Homo sapiens: one gene and its partner. The protein of the gene in region 1 purifies or fractionates together with the protein of each later gene. This does not show direct contact. Each region holds a gene or a part of one and is shown in the gene's direction. Other genes may lie near its edges. The genes, in order: KHDRBS3 and KCMF1.

Evidence for each region.
Region 2: the proteins of KHDRBS3 (region 1) and KCMF1 purify together in Homo sapiens (co-immunoprecipitation; one large-scale study listed by IntAct). This does not show direct contact.

The regions. Positions count from the first base shown.
Region 1 is NC_000008.11:135,460,240-135,464,059, forward strand, and holds part of KHDRBS3 (KH domain-containing, RNA-binding, signal transduction-associated protein 3), read left to right. Parts: intron 1-3,393; exon of another isoform or gene 3,394-3,649; coding exon of another isoform or gene 3,650-3,737; intron 3,738-3,820. UniProt on the Homo sapiens protein: RNA-binding protein that plays a role in the regulation of alternative splicing and influences mRNA splice site selection and exon inclusion. Binds preferentially to the 5'-[AU]UAAA-3' motif in vitro.
Region 2 is NC_000002.12:85,023,020-85,026,839, forward strand, and holds part of KCMF1 (E3 ubiquitin-protein ligase KCMF1), read left to right. Parts: intron 1-3,820. UniProt on the Homo sapiens protein: E3 ubiquitin-protein ligase which accepts ubiquitin from an E2 ubiquitin-conjugating enzyme and then transfers it to targeted substrates, promoting their degradation by the proteasome.

The DNA.
Region 1 (3,820 bases):
TGGTATTTCAGCACTAAATTGTAGAATGGGCCAGCATGGCAAACCTTAGCGTGCCATGTAATAGATATGTTTTATGGTATCTCTAAACTCTAACAAGGCCTTACATTTGCATAGTATTTTAAAGTTTCCAAGGCACTAGTTTTGTCCTCACACTTGCATTCCGGTAAGGCAGATGTTCATGTCTTCTCTTTTCAGGAAGGCAGCTGAGGATCCCAGCTATCTAAGCTTTTGGGCAACTGAGATTTAATTTGAAATCTCAGGTCTTCTGTCTCTGAAGAGGTTGTTCTTTCTTATTTTGGCTTCCTAAAATGTTGGAATGAAATACTTCTCACTTGCTAACTTCAGACCCTGCAGAAATCAATATAATTAGTATGATTGTTTCCAACTGACTTAAATGTGTAGGAAATAGTATATATCCTTTAGGAAGTTTATCCTGATTTTTACAGAAAGTTTCTGTCTGCACTTGCCTTCTTTGAAGAAGCAAACATTCACGGTAGATTTATCTTCCAGGATTTTGATGCTGAGGCCAAGAGGCAGTTTTGAATTAAAGCCCTCCTGTGACTAGTGTATTAGTTTAATAATCAATGCATTATGATAATGAAGCAGTTTATAGATGAGGTGTAGTCGTTCTTTAAAAATTCAGTGTTCGTAAAGATTGATCAACTTCCTAACTGAATTACTCTTTTTCTTTCTTGAGCTAGGATGACAATAAGAGATATACTCCTGTCTGGTATACATTGGCTTTTATATTTTTCCAGACTTGTGTTTCATCGTGGGCACTGATTGCTGATTTTATTTTCATTTTACCAGAATAACTGGTTCTCCTCCTCCACCTCCTAAATGAATTTGTTTCCCGAATATTTATTTATTTATTTTTTTGAGACGAAGTTGCCCAGGCTCTGTTGCCCAGGCTAGAGTGCAGTGACACAATCTAGGCTCACCGTAACCTCTGCCTTCTGGGTTTGCGCGATTCTCCCGCCTCAGCCTCCCGAGTAGCTGGGACTGCAGGTGTGCGCCACCATGCCTGGTTAATTTTTGTATTTTTAGTAGAGACGGGGTTTCACTGTGTTGGCCAGGCTGGTCTCGAACTCCTGACCTCGTGATCTGCCTGCCTCAGCCTCCCAAAGTGCTGGGATTACAGGTGTGAGCCACCGTGCCTGGCCTCTGAATTTGTTTCTCTAACAAAATTAGTGGTTAATGTTTATTTGATGTTAAAAGTCAGTCAAAGAAAATAGGCTTTGGGATCCCACTCCGGACCCCGCCTTGGTGCCTGTAGGGTGAATTGACATTGCAATTCTTGCCAAGGAGAGGTTAATTGCAGATGAAAGTGGTGTTGCATGTTTTATATTTGCTAGTAGGGGATGTGCTGACTCTTACTAAAAAACATCTTTAGAAATGTCTTATGCATTATAATTTAATCCAAGTCTCTGATATTGGTTTGGATGGTTTTCAATACAAGCCAAGTAACCATTAAATAAGATTACATAACACTGTATTTTTAATTATCTGATATAATGTATGGATTGGTGGCTGGCTCACTGCCAAGTTACATTTAGTTGTCGTTGATTACAAGAGAAAGTGGAGCTGAGGATTCAAGATTAAGGTGGTCCAGATTTGTGTCTAGGTTGATAAAAGTTTTTTGTTTGTATATCAAAATGGTTTTTATATCAGTTTCTCAAATATTACAATTCTTAGCATTACTTAGAATAAATATGGAGGATAAAAATATATTAAGGAAGGATTATTATTTTATGTACATCTCTTTGTAATCCACAAAACCCAGGGGCTTAAAACTTGATTTTTGGGGACCCCTTTTGGAAAACATTTCGGATTTGCTTGAATGTCACAGACTTGTAAAGTAGAGAGTAAGAATGAGAACTGCAGAACTGTATTTAGGTATGGTGCCTTCATGCTATAGTTTGTGATTTTCTGTTTCATCCAAAGGAGGATGTGATTATTTAGTTTTTAGTTTTTTATTGTTTTTCTTTGTGTTATCAGTTTTTTTTTTTTTTTAAGAAAATGCGATCACTCACAGTGTTAGATATGCCATTTCTGAGTTTTATACAGTGTATTATGATTAAAAGTGACCCAGTGATTGTGAGTTACAGGGTTTTGGTATTGGACATTAGTAACAGGCTTATAGAGAACCTGCCATGCTGGTTCTCTGTGTTGGGTCCCAGGGGTAGGGAGGAAAAACAGTCTGCACTGGTGAGAAGCTCCTGCTCTCCTCTGTGTGCGTTTGAGAATGAATTTTCGGTTTGTAGATGCCCTCTTTCCTAAGGAACATCTTAGTCCTTCAACTATGCTGAAATATTTAATGATTGGATGGCTTAGATTTACTGTTAATAAATCAGCTTGTGGACATTTTTGAGGCACTTGTTGGTACTGGGTCATGTTTGTAATCTCGATACTGGTAACAGCTCAGAGATGGAGAGGTTATTAGCCTAGTTTTTCAGTTGTAGAAACCAAGATTCTGACAGCTAAAGTGACTTGCCCATGGTGACATGCTTATAATAAAATGTCAGAGTGAAGGGTCAAGCTTTGTTCTTTTACAGGTCCATTGTTCTTTTTACCATGTCCTACTGACTCTCAGTAACACTGAGAGTCTAAAGGGCTAAGTTACTGGCCAACCTGTGATGGTATAATTAGTGAATGATAGAAGGAGAATCAAAACCCTGGCTTTTTTATGTGCAGTTTGTTTTTCCTCTAGCCTGTGCTGAATTGAAAGATAAATTATATAGCATCCATTTTCATACTTCATTCTTCACATTTCTGCCCTAAGATAAGTCCTCTGACCTTTTTCAAAATGGGTTGGATTGCCTGTTTTCTGGTGTCACATAACACCTGGTGCTCTTACGGTGTGATCCTCATCACACTGCTTTGTTTGGATCTTTGTCTTTCTTGGTAAAGAGTGAGTTCCTCGGAAGACAGGGCCTGGTCTTTCCTCTGTATCTTCAGCACCTAGCATACGTCTGAGCACAGGGCCCTTGGGAACTCCTGTCTTCATTTCAGTGTTACGTGTTAATTATCATTAAGGGTAGCAGAATCAGAAAGTATATTTGGAATTTAGCAGTCAGTAAAGAGCTTTGCTTCTTACAGCTTTAGAGGACCTGAATTGGAGGTGGGGATGAAGTCAACAGTTCTGCCCATATCAATGAAAGAAGGTTCTGAGTGAAATGCAGGGTTGAACAAGCAGAAAAGCATCCCAGTGCTCTTTAAATGTGGTTGCACAGTAGGGATCCTTCTCTAGGAGATAATGAGAAGATGTTGTCAGATCTGCTTTGAATCAGATGTTTATTTACTTTTATTCTTTCTTAAGGAATTTATGAAATCACTGCACTCTCATCAATTTGCTCTCCTTCTCTAAACTCCTAATGATATTTCTCATGACAGATTAAAAACAGAATTTTGGAAGCCCTAGTCACATGCCAAATAAGGTTTCTTACCTGAGAGAGTTATCCGCAGTTTCAGATGCCAAAGGGAAACTCCGAAAGCCAGAGGAGCGATTGAAACCGCAAATTGAGTGCCAACAGCAACTTTGATATCAAAAGCCCCATTTGCCTGTTGTCACCAGTCCCGCTGAGTGAAGATAGAATGACTTATATCTTCTACCAAAACAATAGAAGGAGAGTGTTCCTTGGCGTTGGGGATGATGATTATAAAAGCCACCAATTTGAGGCTCTTCCGTGCCAGCTGCTTTCTGTGCATTCTCTCCCATCCCCGCAAGATCTTGCAAGGTAGGAGGTTTTATTCCCTGCGTGCCTCCTTTATTTTTTTCAAATGAGGCCTCTAAGGCTCAAAAACACTAAGTAACTTGCCC
Region 2 (3,820 bases), on another chromosome or scaffold:
TGGAACTACAGGCGGCCGCCATCACGCCTGGCTAATTTTTTGTATTTTTAGTAGAGACGGGGTTTCACTGTGTTAGCCAGGATGGTCTCGATCTCCTGACCTCATGAGCCGCCCGCCTCGGCCTCCCAAAGTGCTGGGATTACAGGCGTGAGCCACCGCGCCCGGCCAATACTGTATGTATTCTTTGAAATTTCCTTTCACTCATCTGAGGCAGATGTTCTTACCGTTGCTGTGATTCATTCTTTTTCCAATTCATTCTGTGCATATTGAACTGTTGAGCCTTTGAATCTGAATAGCCTTTTTTTTTTTTTTTTTGAGACGGAGTCTCGCACTTTCTCGCCCAGGCTGGAGTGCAGTGGCGCGATCTCAGCTCACTGCAAGCTCCGCCTCCTGGGTTCACGCCATTCTCCTGCCTCAGCTTCCTGAGTAGCTGGGACTACAGGCGCCCGCCACCACGCCTGGCTAATTTTTTTTTGTATTTTTAGTAGAGACGGGGTTTCACCGTGTTAGCCAGGATGGTGTCGATCTACTGACCTTGTGATCCGCCCGCCTCGGTCTCCCAAAGTGCTGGGATTACAGGCGTGAGCCACCGCGCCCAGCCCCTGAGTAGCCTTTTTAAAATTCAGTTACAAAAACTGCCGTCAACATTCTTCCACATTCTCTAGGTGCACACAGACAAAAGATTCCCTCCCCGGGAATTTATTTAAGAGTGAAATTACGGTATCATAGGAGGTATATGTGTTTAACTTGACTAAAAATATGAACAAATTTTTCAAAGTGGTTGTGCTGATTTACACTCCTACCAGCAGGGTATAAGCACTTCTGCTGCCCTTTATCTTCACTAACACTTGATATCATGAAACTTGTAGTTTCTTACCGGTTTGGTAAATGTAAAATGCTAGCTCACGGATGTTAATCATGCACTTCTTTGATGACTAATGAGATTGAGCATCTTTTCATATGTTTACTGGCCATTTATGTTTGTTGTTCTTTGAGTGCCCTTTGACAGGTTTCTCCATTTTTCTACTAAGCATTCATCATTTACTTACTGATATGTAAGAGTTCATAATGCATTCTGAATACCAAACTTTTGTCTGTCATGTATGTTGTACATATCGCCAGTTTCTGAACCTTATATTTTCAATCAATGTAGGCTGTGAAAAGACGAAGAAAAAGGCCGAGCGTGGTGGCTCACGCCTGTTGTAATTCCAGCACTTTGGGAGGCCCAGGCGGGCAGATCACCCGGAGTTCGAGACCAGCCTGGCCAACGTGGTGAAACCCCGTCTCTACTAAAAATACAAAAATTAGCTGGGCATGGTGCCAGGCGCCTATGATCCCAACTCCTTGGGAGGCTGAGGCAGGAGAATTGCTTGAACCCAGGAGGCGGAGGTTGCAGTGAGCCAAGATCTCACCATTGCACTCCAGCCCCGGCGACAGAGTGAGACTCTATCTCAAAAGAATAAAACAAAAACAAAAGATGAAGAAAAAGTCTTAACGTAGTTGGACTTATCTCTTACTTTTTGATTTGGAGAGTGAGAGAGAGAGAGAGAGAGAGAGAGAGAGAGTGTGTGTGTGTGTGTGTGTGTGCGCGTGTGTGTGTGAGAAAGAGAAAGATTTAAGAAATTGTTTTCTACTTTAGACTCATAAAAATATTCTATATTGTCTTCTAGAGATATTTTTCATTGTTCTTTTGAATCCGTCTTTAAACCATGTGGAATTGATTTTTTGTGTGTATAGGATATGGGGAGAGATCCAATTCTGTTTTCCCCACATGCAGATAATCACCTGTTCAGCACCATTTATTGTCCATTCCCTTTTTTTCTCAGTGCTCTTTAGTGACCTTGCTGTTGTAAAACAGATTTCAACATCTGTTTCTGGTCTTTCCGTTCTATTCCATGGGCCAGTTTGTCTCTACCCTGGTGCCATTCCATCTTACTGTAGTTATTATAGGTTTATTATTTGTTATGGTGTTACTTATTATTTATTAGTTTAGCTCTTGATATATAAAACAAGTCCCTCTATCTCATTTTTCTTGGGAGCATCTTGACTCTCCTTGGCCCTTTTTGTAACTTGCATCAACATTTGAGTCAGCTTACCATGCCCCACAAAAAAATTCTTTTTAAATTTTGGTTATTAATTGTATTGAATCCACAAATCTGTTGACATTTTATTATGAACCTTCCAGTCCATGAAGTTGGTATTTATATTTTTTAAAGTCCTTTAGTGTCTTTGAATACATTTTTACTAATTTGCTTCATAAAGGGCTGCCTATCTTTGGTTAGATTTATTCATAGGCACTTTTTTAAAATGCTGTTGCAAATGGCTTATTTTTTTATTGCAGTAAAATATACATAGCATAAAATTTATTTTAACCCCTTTTAGGTGTACAGTTCAGTAGCATTAAGTATATTCACATTCTTGGAACCATCACCACTGTCCATCTCCAGAATTCTTCCATTATCCCAAACTTGAAAACTCTCTACCCACTAAACCGTAACTCCCCGTTCTCCCTTTCCTCAAGCTTCTGGCAACCACTGTTCTACTTTCCTTCTCTTTGAATTTGGCACATCTCGATGGAATCACAAATGACATTTTTTTGGTTTTTTGAGATAGGAGTCCCGCTCTGTCACCCAGGCTGGAGTGCAGTGGCGCAACCTCAGCTTACTGCAACCTCTGCCTCCTGGGTTCAAGTGATTCTCTTCCCTCAGCCACCCGAGTAGCTGAGATTACAGGCACACACCACCATGCCTCACTAATTTTTTTGTAATAAATGACATATTTTTAATAATATGTTTTTCTGTCTGTTTTGCAGTGAAGAAATACAATCAGTACTTTATTTAGGAGGTCTCTATCTAACAGCTTTGCTTACTGCTTCTAATAACTTAGCTGTATTTGGGTTTTCAGCATAAACAAGCAGATCACATGTGAATAAAACTATGAAACCCACCTACAGAATTTTAAATTTTAACTTTTTTAAAAATATTTTTTAAAGACAGAGTCTCACTCTGTCGCCTAGGCTGGAGTGCAGTGGCATGATCTCGGCTCACTGCAACCTCCGTCTCCTGAGTTCAAGCCATTCTTCTGCTTCAGCCTCCCAAGTAGCTGAGATTACAGGCGCCCACCACCACGCCCGGCTAATTTTTGTATGTTTAGTAGAGATGGGGTTTCACCAGGTTGGTCAGGGTGGTCTTGAACTCCTGACCTCAGGTGATCCGCCCACCTCAGTCTCCCAAAGTGCTGAGATTACAGGCGTGAGCCACTGCGCCTGGCATATTTTAACTTTTTTTTTTTTAAACAAATACAAATGAGATCTCTCTATGTTGCCTTGGCTGGTCTTGAACTCCTGGCCTCAAGCAGCCCTCTTGTCTTAGCCTCCCAAAGTGTTGGAATTACAGGTGTGAGCTATGGCACCCAGCCCTGTTCAAGCTTCTTTCTTTCCTTTATTATTATTATTATTATTATTATTATTATTATTATTTTTATTTTTTCCAGACAGGGTCTTGTTCTGTTCCCAAGCTGGAGTGCAGTAGTTTGATCATGGTCACTGCAGCTTCGAGCTCCTGGGCTCAAGCATTCCTCCCACCTCAACCTTCCAAGTAGCTAAGGCTACAGGCACAGGCCACAATGCCCAGCTAATTTTTAAATTTTTTTGTAGACAGGATCTCTCTATGTTGCCCAGGCTGGTCTTGAACTCCTGGCCTCAAGCCATCCCCCTGCCTCGCCTTGCCAAAGTGCTTGGGATTATAGGTGTTAGCCACCACACCCAGTTATTTCTTTTAACAGGTCAAGAATTATTTGATGCCCCAATTCTGATATGAAC